5 separate regions of the Homo sapiens genome follow, and regions 2, 3, 4 and 5 are each reported to be linked to region 1. Evidence: microRNA targets listed by miRTarBase, many of them from high-throughput screens and not tested one by one. Region 1 holds a microRNA gene; each other region holds the end of a gene's coding sequence.
Evidence for each region. The annotated mature microRNA hsa-miR-6836-3p reads AUGCCUCCCCCGGCCCCGCAG and lies in region 1 at 2,102-2,122, opposite strand. An mRNA with a match to its seed (bases 2 to 7 or 8) in the 3' UTR can be bound and repressed. Matches are read on the target gene's strand: a 7mer-m8 pairs with bases 2 to 8, a 7mer-A1 pairs with bases 2 to 7 and ends in A, and an 8mer does both.

Region 1 (3,123 bases):
AAAGGGCTGCAAATCTGCCTGCCGTGGAATCGTGAGAAACGTTACTATCGCGTCACTGCCAGTACATGCTCTAGCTGCCGTGCGGGCACTGGCCTCATGGAAGCCTTGGCAGGTCAAACACCAAGGCCAGCCTGGGCAACACACGGACACCCTGTCTCCACAGAAAATCAGAAATATGAGTCGGATGTGGTGGCACCTGCCTGTGGTCCCAGCTACTCGGGAGGTTGAGGCTGCAGTGAGCTGTGATTGCACCACTGCACTCCAGCTTGGGTGACAGAGCAAGACTCCACCTCAAAACCAAAAAGCAAACCAAAAACACAAAGACCACATCCACCAAATCAATAATACCCAAACCGGAATGCAAACGGCGGCCCCACTCGCCAAGCACTTTTGGAACCAGGGCAAGGAACGGATGCTGTGGATGTGAGGAGGGGAGCGCGGCAGTGAGGCAGGGGTCAGGCCAAGACCTGCCGTGCAGGGGCTCAGGTGGCCAGAGAAGGGCAGGGCGCACCCTGGGGGCCTGCAGGGGAGGCTGAGTCACTGGACCACAGCGCACACAGCATCACAGGGCTGGAAATTCCTCACCACCACAATAAAAAACCTGGTAGGACTGGGGTTATGGCATCATGCTCCGGGCGCCTGTTGGTCCCATTCCTTCACTGAGGACACACCCGGCCACTCACATGTCCAAGTCCAACCTGGTCCCTGAGACCCTGGCCATCTCACAGTGATGCTCCTAACACGGCGGCTGTCTACCGCCTCTCCAGCCCCACCACGGCCGCCTCCAGCCTGCCATTCCCAAAGTGCTGGACGGCACCCACGGCACCAAGCACCTCCCGGGGACAGTGTGGAATCTCGTGACCACCCCAGACACTCGGTGCCATTCCACACACACCACAGACCATGGCTTGAAAGCTACTTGCAGCTACTTAATAAACTTAATTTCAGCCGGGCACAAGGTGCTCGCCTGTAATCCCAGCGGTGCTGCAGTGAGCTGGCCACCAGAAATCAACGGAGGCCTGTCCCAGGACCTTGGGAGCGTTTCTTCTCCCAGGCTGAAGGAACCGCCATCTGCTCTGGAGGAAGCCGGCCAGGGCTCTCTGGAAGAACAGCCACCTGCGGCGCTCCGAAGCGCTAGAAACCTTCTCTCAGCCGCAGGGTGCGGGAGCTCTGCGGGCTTTACCTCCGACTTCTCAAATCCCTCCAGGAGGCAAACTCTCCCTGTCTGCTCCTCCCTCCGCCCCCCAGGAATCACAGGGACACCCTCACGATTCTGATTTTGGCTACACAGGAGACTAGAAGATCCGGGCGAGCACCGTGTTCCAAGGCCCATGCGGAGCCCAACTCCACTAAAGAACCTCTCTAGGGCGGCCGGCCACCGCGCTGCCGGGCTTGAAGGAAGGGCGGAGGGACAAAGAAAGGCCGTGGCCGAGACGGCGGCCGGAGCAGGGCGGACTCACCTCCTTGTGCCCTTGGATCTGAGAGTTGACGAAGGCGCGGAGGATGTGGGAGGTGAGGGGCAGGTAGACGTGGATGAGCTGCGTCTCCTGGTGCAGGCAGTACAGGGAGAAGTAGTTCCGCAGCTCCATCGTCTGAATCGCGTTCTCCTGCTGCGGAGCAAACAGCCGCCTTTCGCACCCGGCCCAGCCGGCGACGGGAGCACCAAGGCCCGAACACCAGCGTGCTCCCTGAGCCAGGGCGGCCCCTTCTCCTTCAGCCTTCACCAGGCATTTGGAAGGTGGCGAGGTAAGAGAGGGCCGGGGAGGGAGCACCGTGCAGGGAGCCGCATCGCTCTGGGCACGCGGGCCAGCTCCCTGCCTCCACTGCACCCCCAGCTCTGTTCCAGACACAAGGAGCCAACCCAGGGGAGCCCACCAGGACGGCTCCGGGTCCCACCATGGCCGGGAGGGGAAAGGCTCCCACGGGCCTGCTCGGCCGCCCCGCCACCCACCTCCACAATGCGGGACTCCAGCTGCTCCACGGACTCCGGCTCGCGGTTCTGCGCGGTGGCGCTCATCATCTGCCTCTTCATCAGGCTGTACTTGTGCAGGGCCCGCTGGTGCTTGTGCAACACGCCCTTCTCATGCCGCTCGCACAGGTCCTGCGGGGCCGGGGGAGGCATTCGCCCGCTGTCTGGATGCCTGCGCCAGGGCCCTGCGGAGCCGGCCGAGGGAAGCACCCCCGCCAGACGGAAGGCCCCGTCTTCCCCTGCAGCCCTGGCTTCTCAGCTCCTCTTCCGTCCCCCAGGAGTTAGACCCTTGAAGGATCCTAAGATCATTCCTGAAAGTTCTGCCCCCAGCCAAGGAGCAGCCAAGACTCACCTTATAGGACTGCAGCAGATCCAAGAAGAGGTTCAGCTTCTCCACCACGTCGTTCTCTTCCTGCTTACCCTGGAAGGCGAGGGGGAGCTCACCCACGCGGACGCACATAGGACCCGGTCCCTGCCCGGGAACTCAGACCCAAGCCTGGCCTGGGCCGGTTCCTTCCTCCCAGAGTCAGACGGGCTCCCCAGGACCACCAGCCAGGTCTGCAGGGGGCCCCCTTCCCCACCAGCCCACCCATTACCAGGCGGACACGCCTTCGAGCCCAGCAGTCTTTTTTTTTTTTTTTTTTTGAGTCGGAGTCTTCGCTCTGTCGCCCAGGCTGGAATGCAGTGGCACGATCTCGGCTCACTGCAAGCTCCGCCTCCCGGGTTCACGCCATTCTCCTGCCTCAGCCTCCCGAGTAGCTGGGACTACAGGCGCCCTCCACCATGCCCGGCTAATTTTTTGTATTTCTTTTTTTAGTAGAGACGGGGTTTCACCGTGTTAGCGAGGATGGTCTTGATCTCCAGACCTCGTGATCCGCCCGCCTCGGCCTCCCAAAGTGCTGGATTACAGGCGTGAGCCACCGCGCTGGGCCTGGCCCAGCAGTCTTGATGGGAACAAGGCCTGCGTTCCCGCGGGACAGCTGCCCGCCCTCCTGCTCATCAGCCCGGCCTGCCTTGCCTTTCTCAGGCCTTCGCAAAGCCGGCGACTCTCCCAACACATATGCTGGGAGAGCCAGATGCCCCAGACCCCCCGACCCCTAAGGCTCCATCAAGCACTGCAGAAAACCCGAGTTCCCATATAACGCTGTGAGCCG
Region 2 (3,074 bases), not on the chromosome of region 1:
TCAAATTCTGAGAGCAAAGCAACAAGTAGCTTAATGATGCTGGACTCTAAATCCAAGTATGTCTTAGATGGCATGGTTGATACTGTCTGTGAAGACCTGGAAACAGACAAAAAAGAGCTTGCCAAGCTCCAGACTGTCCAGCTGGATGAAGATATGCAAGACTTATGAACTTTATTTCCTCCTCACCTCTTTTTGGCATCAGCGGCAAATCTTTTCATGAAGCCCCAAGGACACAAAACATTTTCCCATTTAAAGGAAAACACTCTAGTTTTGCAAGTATATGCATACAAGAGACTTTAGATTGATCTGCATGAAGATCACAGTTAAGTATACAGGAGTAGAACTGCATTATTGCAGCCTTTTTGTTCACTTATAAATTTCTCTTTTAAATAGATGGAGACAAAGGACAAGGTGAAATGTATCAAGTCAAAGTGAATCATTTAGTTGACTCTATAATTCTAAGGTCAAAATGGAACTTGATAGTTTTTTAAATTAAAAAATGTATACACCTAACATAGAAAATTAAAGATAGCTGCAGACCATTAGAAATAATACAATTGTTTTTGTTTACTTTTACTCCATGGGCATTGAAAAGGTTAAGAAACATAAATGGTACATATTTTTAAAGTTAAGTAGCATGCATATATATATGCACACACACCTCTTTTTCAGCATTTTTTGAGAAAGTCTTGGGTCTCAAACACATTTGTCTCAACACATTTCCAAATGTGATTTCTAATAGCTCAGTGTGGCTGAGAAAGTGCGGAACTCCACTAAAAACTCTGAAACTTCAGTATAAATGTAAATATATCAGTTCTATAAGCAGGATTTGAGTAATTACAGTGAATTTTATTTTTAATGTATATGTTTCTCTTCAGGCGCTATGAACTGAAAAATATGTTTTCTTACTGTTTAATTTATTTTTATTGTTTGAACAGGAAGTGAACATAGTCGTTTCCAACAAAGTTTTACTTTTTGTAGGATTTTAAAAATAATGATTTTTACCAGGAATCTATTAAGGTCAATATTAATAACACTGAAACAGGAAATCTAACTCCCAATATTGGAATTTTGGTACTTTTTTTCACATCCTTGTTCTTTATTTAGCAACTCTGATTCATTTAAATATGTTTTTTATAGAATTCTATGTGCCTTTTTACCTCGTGGCCTTTTTATTGGTAGTAAGGTACAGAAGTGTCAACAGAAGCACTGATGGTTCTTTTCTACTATCTAACAGGGTTAATTTCACCACAAAATTGCTTTAAATCTGAAGAACTTAAGTTTCACTAAATAATATATATGACATTTATCACACAAATGGATAAACAACTAATTATTGTTGATACTTTTCATTACAAGGAAAATAAGTTATAAATACCATGTCAAATTGATTATACAGGCTATGAAAACCATTTTAAAGGAAAGAAAATATGTAAATTCTATTGAGCAAAATTCTGTCCTGTTGAAACTTAGTTCTAAAGGTTTTGAATCAGTTGTTACACTCTGACACATGACTGTTGTTTGCACTATATTATCATGTCTTCTTTAAAAGTAAATATTTTTGGTTTCTGTAAGAAGCTTGTTTAATAATGTTGTAAGCCGTGGCTATAGTTTTATCAAGACTCTGAACACAAGATGTAACAATGCAAATAAATTTATGTAGTGAGTAAAGTTGCTCTCTAGTCTCTGAAAAGCAAAAAAAGTGAGAAAATAATTTCTTCAGAGATAACTTCAAGTTGTTGAACATAAAGGTGTTAGATGTTAGCACATCTTGCTTTTTTTTTTTTTTTGAGATGGAGTCTCGCTCTGTTGCCCAGGCTGGAGTGCAGTGGCACGATCTTGGCTCACTGCAAGCTCTGCCTCCTGGGTTCACGCCATTCTCCTGCCTCAGCCTCCCGAGTAGCTGGGACTACAGGCACCTGCCACCATGCCCGGCTAAATTTTTGTATTTTTAGTAGAGACGGGGTTTCACCGTGTTAGCCAGGATGGTCTTGATCTCCTGACCTCGTGATCTGCCCGCCTCGGCCTCCCAAAGTGCTGGGATTATAGGCATGAGCCACTGTGCCTGGCCACATCTTGCTTTTTTTTTTATGATCAGAACAAAGGGCCCACTCTAGTTCTCTACATGTCAATCAATCAAGCATGTTGAATAAGGGACATAGAGGATTTAACTTTTGTTATCATAAATGGAACTTGCAGGCATATATCAAGAACCCTATGAAGAATTCCTCTCCCATCATTTTGATAAAGAACTACATCATTTTTGATAGAATTGGTGAATGTTCCTAAACTGCTGAAGCTACATGTTTTTTGTTTTGTTTTACAAAGTCAGGTGTTTGAGAGTTCTTTTCCACTCTACTACTACTCATAGAGCTTGTTTTTTCTTTGGGTGTGTGCTGATCCTGTTACTGAGATTAATTACATGGCTCTGCAGTGTAGTTTACATAAAAATGATGTTTTCCACTTGATTGCTGCAGATATCAAGAGTTTGTTATTTTCAAATACCCATCCAACAAGAGAGATGGGGAGGTTTTTAGTTATATATGCTATATATATATATATAACTGGAAATGTTTTATATGTTTTCCGAAAATACAATAAGCCTCTCTTTTATTCAGTGTTCTTCCTCTTTTCTCCCTTATGAAAAAGAAAAGATAGCACAAAACTTAAGACTTACCTAGGAAACCCATTCATATTCCCACCATGATGTAATTATAACCCTACAATTACTTCAGGTAGCTACACAATATACCAGGTAAGAATCAATGCACAGTATAAAGAACTTATTGTTCTTTTCTATTCTTTCAGTTGAATAAGGGCCAGTTGGTATGCAGCCCATGTATATGTGAATGGAGTAAGATAAACCCCATGATCTCCTTGCACAGAATTGCAAATGTCTTTTGCCATACCAAGGGCCAGACTCAGAACCCTTGGAGTCATGTGGCAGAATTTCCCTCTTACATAAACCAATGCTTGAAAATGCTGCAAATGACCCTCTAATGATCCCTGAAGATCAAAACAGGGGTAAATGACTCCCTGCAAAACCCAACCCATGCTGCTGGCTGTGGGATTTT
Region 3 (3,074 bases), not on the chromosome of region 1:
GAAACCTTACAAATGTGATGATTTTGACGAGGCCTTCAGTCAAGCTTCATCTTATGCAAAACAAAGGAGAATTCATATGGGAGAGAAACATCACAAGTGTGATGATTGTGGCAAAGCCTTTACTTCACATTCACATCGCATTAGACATCAGAGAATCCATACCGGACAGAAATCTTACAAATGTCATAAGCGTGGCAAGGTCTTCAGTTAGAGGTCACTCCTTGCAAAACATCAGAAAATTCATTCCTGAGATAATTGTTCCAAATGCAATGAGTATAGCAAACCATCAAGCATTAATTGACATTAGAGTCAATTCAGCATTGACTTGAGTTTCAGTTGACTTGACATTGAGTTCAAGCATTAATTGACATTAAAGTGTTTACGTTAAGAGGATTGGGCTGGGCAGGGTGGCTTATACCTGTAATCCCAGCACTGTGGGAGGTCAAGACGGATAGATCACTTGAGGTCAGGAGTTTGAGACCATCCTGGCCAAAAGACGTGAGCCACTTTTCCTAGCCTGTTTTTTGTTTCTGATAGGGATTTTTATGGGTATTGTGTTGAATCTAAATCACATTGGGTTATATAATCATTTAACAATATTAATCTTTCCAATCCATCAATATGGGTCATATCTCTATTTATATAAGTTTTTAATCATTTTGATCAATGTTTGTAGATTTCAAGGTACAAACTTCTCACCTTTTTACGTTTATTCCTAAATATTTCTTACTGTAAGTTCTCTAGCAAATGGAAGTGTTTTCTTAATTTTCTTTTAACATTGTTTATTGTTAATGTATGGAAATTTAACTAATTTTTGGTACTGATATTGTATTCTGCAAATACACTGTGTTTATTAGCTTCAGTAGTATTTTAGTTGACTCTGTGATTTTCTACACAGCAGATCATGTCATCTACAAACAAATACAATTTTACTTCTTTCTTTCTGAAAAAAAAAATGGATAACTAATACAGATGCCTACCCTGAAACATGCCATTTTTTGATCCTTATGTTTTGGGATCTTTCTCACTACCACTGACCAACTTTTCATATCCTGAAGATATGAAGCAGTGAAAATAAGAGAATTCAAGACAGGCTAAAAAAAAAAAAATGCCAGGTGCAGTGGCTCATGCCTGTAATCCCAGCACTTTGGGTGGATCACTTGAGGTTAGGAGTTTGAGACCAGCCTGGTCAACATGGCAAAACCCCACCTCTACAAAAAATACAAAAATTAGCCAGGCGTAGTGGCACGCACCAGTAGTCCCAGCTACTGGGGAGGCTGAGGCAGGAGAATCACTTGAACCTGGGAGGCAGAGGTCGCAGTGAGCCAGGATCGCCCCACTGCACTCCAACCTAGGCAACAGAGCGAGACTCCATCTCAAAAAAAAAAAAAAAAAGATATGTCAGTGTGGTGTAGGCAAAAAGTATGGACACATAGAAATATGGAACAGAATAAATAATCTAGAAATAGTTTCATATGAATATAGTCACTTGATTTTGACAGAAATGCAAAGGCAATTCAATGCAGCTTTTTGTATTGGTTTCCTATTGCTACTATAAAATATTACCATAAACATAGTGGTTATTATAAAACAATACAACTTGATTATTTTACCGTTCTGGCAGTCAGAAGCCCAAAAATGGGTCTTACATGGTAAAATCAAGGTATCAGTAGAGCCATGTTGATTCTGGAGGCTCTAGGGGAGAATCTATTACTTGCCTTTTCCAGCATCTAGAGGCTGCCCACATTCCTTGGTTCCTGGTTTTTGGCCCCTTTCAGCAAGGACATCACTCCAATCTCTGGTTCTGTCATTGCATCTCCTTCTCTGACTCTGACCCTCCTGCATTTTTCATAAGGACCCTTGTGATTACATTGAGCACACCTGGATGATCTTTTCAACAAGTGATGGAACTAGACATCTATATGCAAAAAACAAACAAACCTTGGCCAGGCATGGTGACTCATGCCTGTAATCCCAGCACTTTGGGAGGCCAAGGCAGGAACATCACTTGAGGCTGGGATTTCAAGACCAGCTTGGGCTACATAGCAAGGTAACATCTGTCCAGAAAGTTTTTTAAATAAAATATTAGCTGGGTGTGGATGGCACATGCCTGTAGTCCTAGTTACTCAAGAGGCTGAGGCAGGAGTATCACTTGAACACAGAAGTTCAAAGCTGCAGTGAGCTGTGATCATGCCACTGCACTCCAGCCCAGGCAATAGAGCAAGACCCTGTCTCTAAAAAATAAACAAATACTGAAAATATTTACTCTACAAAAGATATGGGTAAGGAAATGAAAGGTGAGCCAAAGACGGGAAAATATTTGCAAATCATGTGTTTGACCAAGGACTTGTTTCCCGCATATTCAAAGAACCCTCAAAATGCAGAAGTAAGAAAACCTTATTTTATTTTATTTTATTTTATTTTATTTTATTTTATTTTATTTTATTTTATTTTATTTTTGAGACAGAGTTCACTCTTGTTGACCAGGCTGGAGTGCAATGGCACGATCTCAGCTCACCACAACTTCCACCTCCCAGGTTCAAGCACTTCTCCTGCCTCAGCCTCCCGGTAGCTGGGATTACAGGCATGCGCCACCATGCCCGGCTAATTTTGTATTTTTAGTAGAGACAGGGTTTCTCCATGTTGGTCAGGCTGGTTTCAAACTCCTGACCTCAGGTGATCCACCCGCCTCGGCCTCCCAAAGTGCTGGGATTACAGGCATGAGCCACCGCGCCCAGACAAGAAAACCCTTTTTTAATCACAAAAAATGTGAGCATTCACTTCACCAAATAAGATATACAGATGTCCGAAAAAGCACATCAAGAGATGTTCAACATTACTAGTCATTAGGGAAATACAAGTAAAACTACAATGAGATACTACTACATACCTATTAACATGACTACACACACATACACACACACACACACACACACACAAAACTGAGGATACCAAGTGCTGGTGAGGATGTGGAGTAATTGGAACTCTTACACATTGCTGGTGAGAGTGCAAAATAATACAGTCACTTTGGAAAACAGTTTGACAGTGTCTTTTAAAGTTAAACATACAATATG
Region 4 (3,074 bases), not on the chromosome of region 1:
GGCGGCTCCGGTGCCCTGGTCCAGCTCTTGAGGGGACCGGGCCTTCAGCTGGGGCAACACTGGGCCTCCAGCCGGGCCCCGCTGAGCCTTGATGTTGAGGGAGGAGCTCCAGAACTCTAGGGAACAAGAAACCGACTGGGGCCTCCGGGACTGGTTAGGGGAAGTTTCCCAACCAAGGCAAGGCAGGGGCTTCGGGCGGTGTGCTGCGAGCCTTGCCTTCCCCTCGGCCTCAGCTTGTTCATCTGTGCAATGGGTGGCAGGAAGCCCTTACCAATGCCCAGATGGGAGATGGCCTCCAGCTCTTTGTGAGTGGCTGCGTGGTGGATGGCTCTGGGGAGCTGCAGCGGGAGGAGAAGGATGTCCCTGAGGCCAGAGAGGGGAGCAGAAGGGAGTGAGGGCCGAAGAGGGCGGGAAGGATGGGCTGTCCCAAGGAGCAGGGCCCGTGGACACCAGGCACCCTGCGGGCAGACTCACCGGGTGTGGCAGTAGGCACAGATGAGCTGGACTAGGTCTGGGAACATGAGCTCCGAGCCCTCCAAGGAGACGCCTGAGAGAGGAGGGAAGTGAGGTGCTTCTCTGGGGAACCTCCCTGCTTCCAGCCCCTTCCCGCCAGGCCAGCCCCTCACCGCCAGGGCTCTCCAGGATGTAGTGGCTGGAGACGAAGGAGGGGCCACTGGCTTCAGGCAACCGCATGCACAGGGCCTGGCACTGGCGGGTGTTAGATTTCCGCACGAGGAACGTCTGCAAGTGGATAGGGCTCAGGCAGCTCAGGACCTTGGCGTCCCATCCCTCTCCCTCCCACCCCTGGCTGGCCAGTCCCTGGAGTGTGGGGCAAGACTCACCCCCGGGGGCTCGGTCCTCAGCATGTGCAGTGCGGCCGCTGCGTTGGCTTGCAGCTGCAGCCACACGGGCCGGGTGAGCAGCAGGCGCTCCCGCAGGCTCACAACGCGCCCCGGCCGCTGCGGCCCGCCTGCCTGCCCGCCGCTGGCATTGGGCACGTCATACAGTGGGTCCTGGGCTGGCCTGGGGGCAGGCACCCAGATCTGAGCAGGGAGCCAGGGGCTGGGACCCTTGCTCTCCTCTTCCCCACTCCCGGGTTTCCCACTTTCTCTATCCCCGGATAGGCCCTCCTCTCGCAGCCCCTCCCTGCCCCACCTGGCTGCCCTGCCAACTTCACTAACTTTTCTCTCGCCAGGTGCCCAGTAGTGAAGCTGGACGGGCTGGGGGCTCCAGGAGAGCCCGCGCCTGACTCTCCAGGGCTTTCCATGGCTGGGAGCTCCTTCGCTTCAGGAAGAGAATCCAGTCCCAAGGCAAGGCACGCACATCCCCAGTGAGTAACACTTCCTGAGGGCGGTCCGCCTGTCACACCCGCCAGTTAACTCTTGTGTGTCCACCCTGCCTGGCCAGTGCCCGCCTCCTCTGTTCTGGACCCTGCTTTGGGGGTCAGGGGTCCCCTCCATGCTAGCCCTGCTCTGAGGGCCCCAGCTGGGGGATGCCACCTCCACACACGGCCTCCTGCAGCCTCACCAGCTACTCACATTGCACACGTGGGCGGGAAGTGGTTAAGCGGCCTCAGTCCCCACAGGCCCCAGCCATGCTCTGGGGGCACCTTTGGCTCTGTGGTCAGTTGCTCATCTGCCCCTGGCCTCAGGTCAGCCTTGTGGGAGAGCACCCTCTACTGTCCATAGATGACTCATTCCTGAACCTGGGTTTTAGGATTTTAGGTTGCCATGGAGAAAATATGCCATGTCTCCATGGAAACCAACCTATTTGCTTAACTGAGGTTCTGGGGGTGGTTCTGACACTCAGTGCTAACCAGGGGGAGTCTGGCTGTGAGGTCGTCAGCACATGGCGGTGCTGCCGGCTGCCTCCCACGCACGCAGGCTCTGCCAGCCTGCCTTGCCAATCTGCCAGGCAACTGGGACAGGTGCAGACATGACCCAGGCTCCAAGCACACGCATCCACCCTCCCCGCCGAGGCACTCTCCCGGTGCCATATGTTGACTCTGCCCAGCGCCAGGCAGCCCAGCGCCCACCTCCCCCTCCCCAGCCTGGCCCCACGCACAGTGCTCTAGCCTCTGCTGGGTAGTGTGAGGAGTGGCAATCTGCAGGCACCCTAGAAGTCGGCCTGGTTCAGGTGCTCCCCACGGGAGCCCTGATTCTCTTGCAAGGTAAATCACACACACACACAGGGCACGCCAGAGTCCCAGGAAAGGTTTTAATTCCAGTCCTTGGAATCTGAGAAGCAGACACCAAGAACTGCCCTGAGAACACCTGGGGGGCCTGGCATCTTGCCTCCAGATCCAGCCAGGGTGGACAGACCCCCAGATAATCACGTCTGACTCAGAGTTCCCGCACAGTGGAAACTGGCTCCCTGGCCCTGAGGCCGGACAGCCTGCATCCAACATCAGCAAGAGGATGTGGCTTTGACTTCGGCTGTCTTCTCTGTCAGGGGAGCCCCAAGAGATGGATCTTCAGGAGTGGGAGGTGGCAGGCGGCTCAGGGATGGAGACAGCAGCCTTGCCTGGTCAGGTCAGCTCCACGGCCACAGCTGTGCAGGCCTCGAGGAGGGCAGAGGAGGAGTCCAGGCCAGTGCCAGATGGAGTGGGAGGGCCCAGCAGCACCACAGGAGCCTGGCTGGGCAGACCCTGAGGGGCCTGTGGGTCCGCCTGTCTGCAGGAGGAAGACGAGAATCCTGGGTGCAGTGCCAGCTGCTCTGAGGGTCCCCCTGGCTGTGAACAGCAGGGTCAAGGTCCTGTGCATATGTGGGAAGAAGAAAACTGTCACCAGTTAGGAAGCTGAAAGGAAGGAGGCAGCCACTTACTGAGTGGCTTTGGGCTGGCCCAGAACAGGCCTCCTGGGCAGCTCCACAGCCCTCCCTGACCCCTCCTGAGTGGGAGCTCCATCAACCCAGAGCTTCCCCAGCCCCATCCTGGTTCCTGCTCCTCAAACTCCCACAAGCCCCTCAAATCTAGACCATCCTAACTTTCTTGAGCCACTGATTCTGACACAGTCACAGCCTTTCTCTGGGCTCCTTCCTGGAAGCTGAGCTGAGGAAAGGTGATGGCAAGGGGG
Region 5 (3,074 bases), not on the chromosome of region 1:
TTTTAAAAATAGTATGTTTTTGCAGACTTTTGTGCTTTTGTCTTCTCTTTTGAATACTTGAATTCCTCAAGCAATTCCCCTTCTCTTCTCCTGTAGCTATCCATGGGAACTTCTTGCTTACTGGTGCCTATGATAACACAGCCAAGATCTGGACGCACCCAGGCTGGTCCCCGCTGAAGACTCTGGCTGGCCACGAAGGCAAAGTGATGGGCCTAGATATTTCTTCCGATGGGCAGCTCATAGCCACTTGCTCATATGACAGGACCTTCAAGCTGTGGATGGCTGAATAGATGACAATGGGAAAAGGACTTGAACCTCAAGCTCTCTCTAAGGAGCTGTTTTCCTCAAACGAGAAGAATTGAAGTGTTTAGTTCTATCATGTTTTCTGCCAATTACCATGCATAGACCCTCAGTAGAATTGGATTTCCATGTCAGCCCCCACTCCAGGAAGGCAGCCCAATCCCTAGGTGATGGGGAACCCCTCTCACGGTTGAAAATTTATTACCTTTTTACGCCCTGCCACGAACTGTGTAGACATTGTTTTTATTAATCTTTTGTTTGGCCGGGCGTGGTGGCTCACGCCTGTAATCCTAGCACTTTGGGAGGCCGAGGTGGGTAGATCGCTTGAGCTCAGGAGTTCAAGACGAGCCTGGGCAACATGGCAAATGCCGTCTCTGCAAAAAAATACTAAAATTAGCTGGTCGCGGTGGCTTCTGCCTGTGATTCCGGCTACTTGGGAGGCTGAGGTGGGAGGGATTGCTTAAGCCTGGGAGGCAGAGGTTGCAGTGAGCCGAGATTGCGCCATTGCACTCTAGCCTGTGTGACAGAGCAAGACCCTGTCTCAAAAAAAAAAAAAATTTGTTCGAATGCCTTATAGCCTTCCTCACAGCACCCAGGATTGTGACTGACTCTGCATTTTTAATTCTTGAAACTTGGCTTTCCATAACATGGTACATGCTTCAGGACTACATATGACCCAGAGAGCAAGGTGGCTGAACTATAGTCTGGAAGCCCTCAGGTAAAGAGGCACATCTCACCACTCATTGGTTAAACAATGCATCATAGCGAGCACTTTTCCTTTCCCTGGAGAATGGGATGTGAAGCAGTAGACCGCAGCCACGCCGATGGTTATACAGTGAAGAAGACTTCACCTCTTCCTATTGAGTTTGCTTGGAATGCTGACAGCATCAGGCAACTCTGAACTGAACATTTGCTTTGTCAGAAAATATCTTTTTTTTTACTTTGAAGTTTGGCAACCTTCATGTTACCCCAAAGCAAAACCATTGTGTCAGGAGTCAAACAAATGTTTAGAAAGCAAACATGACGTCTCTATTGTACAACCTCCTTTCTCTTGGCTGTTTAAAGGATGTACTTCGTGTATTAAAGGGTACTTTATGTTGAAGTAACGAAAAAACCCTAATGGGTGTTCCTAAACCTAAACCTTTTCTTTATTCCACATTTGCTACGGTAAAATCCTGTTACAAAACTACCCTATAAAGAATTATTTTCTATAGTTAAGCATTTTCTGAATCCTAGCCATTGGTCCATAGAGGTCTCTTTTTTTTGGTTTGGGATATAATGGATGATCTCAAATATGGATTACTCTGATTTATGTCTCCTTAGCACCTTGTTAACAATTTTTTTTAAAATAGAAGGCTGTTTGCATTTTGGGCCAGACTGCCAGTAAGCCAGGCCTGGACTCAATTACAATTCTTAACTTGTCTGTCATGCACCTCTTTTCACCTCAACTATACAGCCTCTGAACTCTCAAATTACACAGTAAATTCAAAAAAATATATAGGAATTTGGAAGAAGAAAAGGTTGTCTACAGAGGAGAGTTATTAAAGAAAGGCTTCTTGGCCGGGCACGGTGGCTCACGTATGTAATCGCTTGAACCTGGGAGGCGGAGGTTGCAGTGAGCCAAGATCACACCGTTGTACTACAGCCTGGGCAACAGAGCAAGACTCCATCTCAAAAAAACTTAATTTGCTGTTGCAGAGAGGTTGACAATGGCTTTGGTCAGCTCTATTCTGTGGACCCTGAATGTGTGATATATAGCCAAACAACTGGTTTGTTTTGTTTCATTTTGAGACAGGGTCTCGCTTTGTCGCCGAGATTGGAGTGCAGTAGTGCGAACACAGCTCACCACAGCCTTGACTTCCTGTGCTCAAATGATTCTCCTGCCTCATCCCCTCATCCTGTGTAACTGGGATCACAGGAGGATGCCACCATGCCTAGCTAATTTTTTTGATTTTTTGGTAGAGACACGATTTCACTTTGTTGCCCAGGCCGGTCTCAAATTTCTGGGCTCATGCAATCCTGCCTTGGCCTCCCAAAATGCTGGGATTACAGGCATGAGTCACTGTGCCTGACCTAAACATACTGTTTTTAATCTGATTTCAATTATAACCAAATAGTTGCATTTCCTATGTAGTTGTTCAGCTTCTGAATTCTCAGGACTACCCTCTGTTGCTCACTTCACTATTGTTCAGGTATTAATGAATTCTATTTCATAGATTATGATGAAAAGAACTTTTTTTCTTCTTTGTAGTATGTGTAAAATAATGAAGAACACTGGTGAATTAGCATGCAATTGGATATAATGTGCTAACAAAGATTTTTAGTTTCTCAGGTTTAAATTTTGCTATTAGTTCCCTTCGACTTGTTTTTCTTTGTTTTTTGGTTGGTCCAAGAGGTAGCAGTTGGGTGAAAACATTTCATCCAAGCCTTTGACAGAACAAATACCTTGTGGGCTATTTCTTCACAGGAATTAAAACATCATTGTAAGAAAGTGGTTAAGAAGCACAAAGCCAGGTGTGGCATTTGTGAAAATGGCAAGATAAACAGCCACCGTTTCACAGAACACTTAGTCCCTACCTAGATGGTATACCAGGCACATTCAGATACCTTGTTTAATCCCCACAATCTTTTGAGTTTATTATTCCCTTTTTATGGACAAAACAGGCTCCAAAAACACTTGCTCAAGTTTAGCCAGCTAGCAAGTGATGGAGCTTGAATTTGAACTGTCATCTGACCATTGATGACCTTATGAAGGTTTCACAGGTTCCCCACAC

Region 2: the mRNA of SIX4 is a reported target of hsa-miR-6836-3p. The part of its 3' UTR that is shown has no 7-base or 8-base seed match.
Region 3: miRTarBase lists ZNF860 as a target of hsa-miR-6836-3p. The part of its 3' UTR that is shown has no 7-base or 8-base seed match.
Region 4: the mRNA of BRMS1 is a reported target of hsa-miR-6836-3p. Seed matches in the 3' UTR shown: 8mer at 2,291-2,298.
Region 5: the mRNA of PRPF4 is a reported target of hsa-miR-6836-3p. Seed matches in the 3' UTR shown: 7mer-m8 at 770-776.

What each region holds. Positions count from the first base shown.
Region 1 is chr7:2,255,414-2,258,536 of GRCh38, forward strand. MIR6836 (microRNA 6836) reads right to left here and starts at 2,164; the gene lies at 2,102-2,164. It overlaps SNX8 (sorting nexin 8), which reads right to left. Exons shown (of 11, transcript NM_013321.4): 8 at 2,322-2,390; 9 at 1,952-2,101; 10 at 1,461-1,610. RefSeq lists an enhancer at 2,499-3,123.
Region 2 is chr14:60,710,501-60,713,574 of GRCh38, reverse strand. It overlaps SIX4 (SIX homeobox 4), which reads left to right. Exons shown (of 3, transcript NM_017420.5): 3 at 1-3,074. The coding sequence ends at 168. Among named protein-coding and RNA genes, the nearest start is that of SIX4, 12 kb to the left of the region's middle.
Region 3 is chr3:31,990,768-31,993,841 of GRCh38, forward strand. It overlaps ZNF860 (zinc finger protein 860), which reads left to right. Exons shown (of 2, transcript NM_001137674.3): 2 at 1-956. The coding sequence ends at 211. It also overlaps a transcript of OSBPL10 not described here. Among named protein-coding and RNA genes, the nearest start is that of ZNF860, 11 kb to the left of the region's middle.
Region 4 is chr11:66,335,136-66,338,209 of GRCh38, forward strand. It overlaps BRMS1 (BRMS1 transcriptional repressor and anoikis regulator), which reads right to left. Exons shown (of 10, transcript NM_015399.4): 10 at 2,204-2,754. The coding sequence ends at 2,747. RIN1 (Ras and Rab interactor 1) reads right to left here and starts at 1,299. Exons shown (of 10, transcript NM_004292.3): 1 at 1,182-1,299; 2 at 843-1,023; 3 at 627-741; 4 at 475-547; 5 at 272-363; 6 at 1-116. The coding sequence starts at 1,267. RefSeq lists an enhancer at 1,779-2,633.
Region 5 is chr9:113,291,371-113,294,444 of GRCh38, forward strand. PRPF4 (pre-mRNA splicing tri-snRNP complex factor PRPF4) reads left to right here. Exons shown (of 14, transcript NM_001244926.2): 14 at 97-1,535. The coding sequence ends at 290. Among named protein-coding and RNA genes, the nearest start is that of RNF183, 10 kb to the right of the region's middle.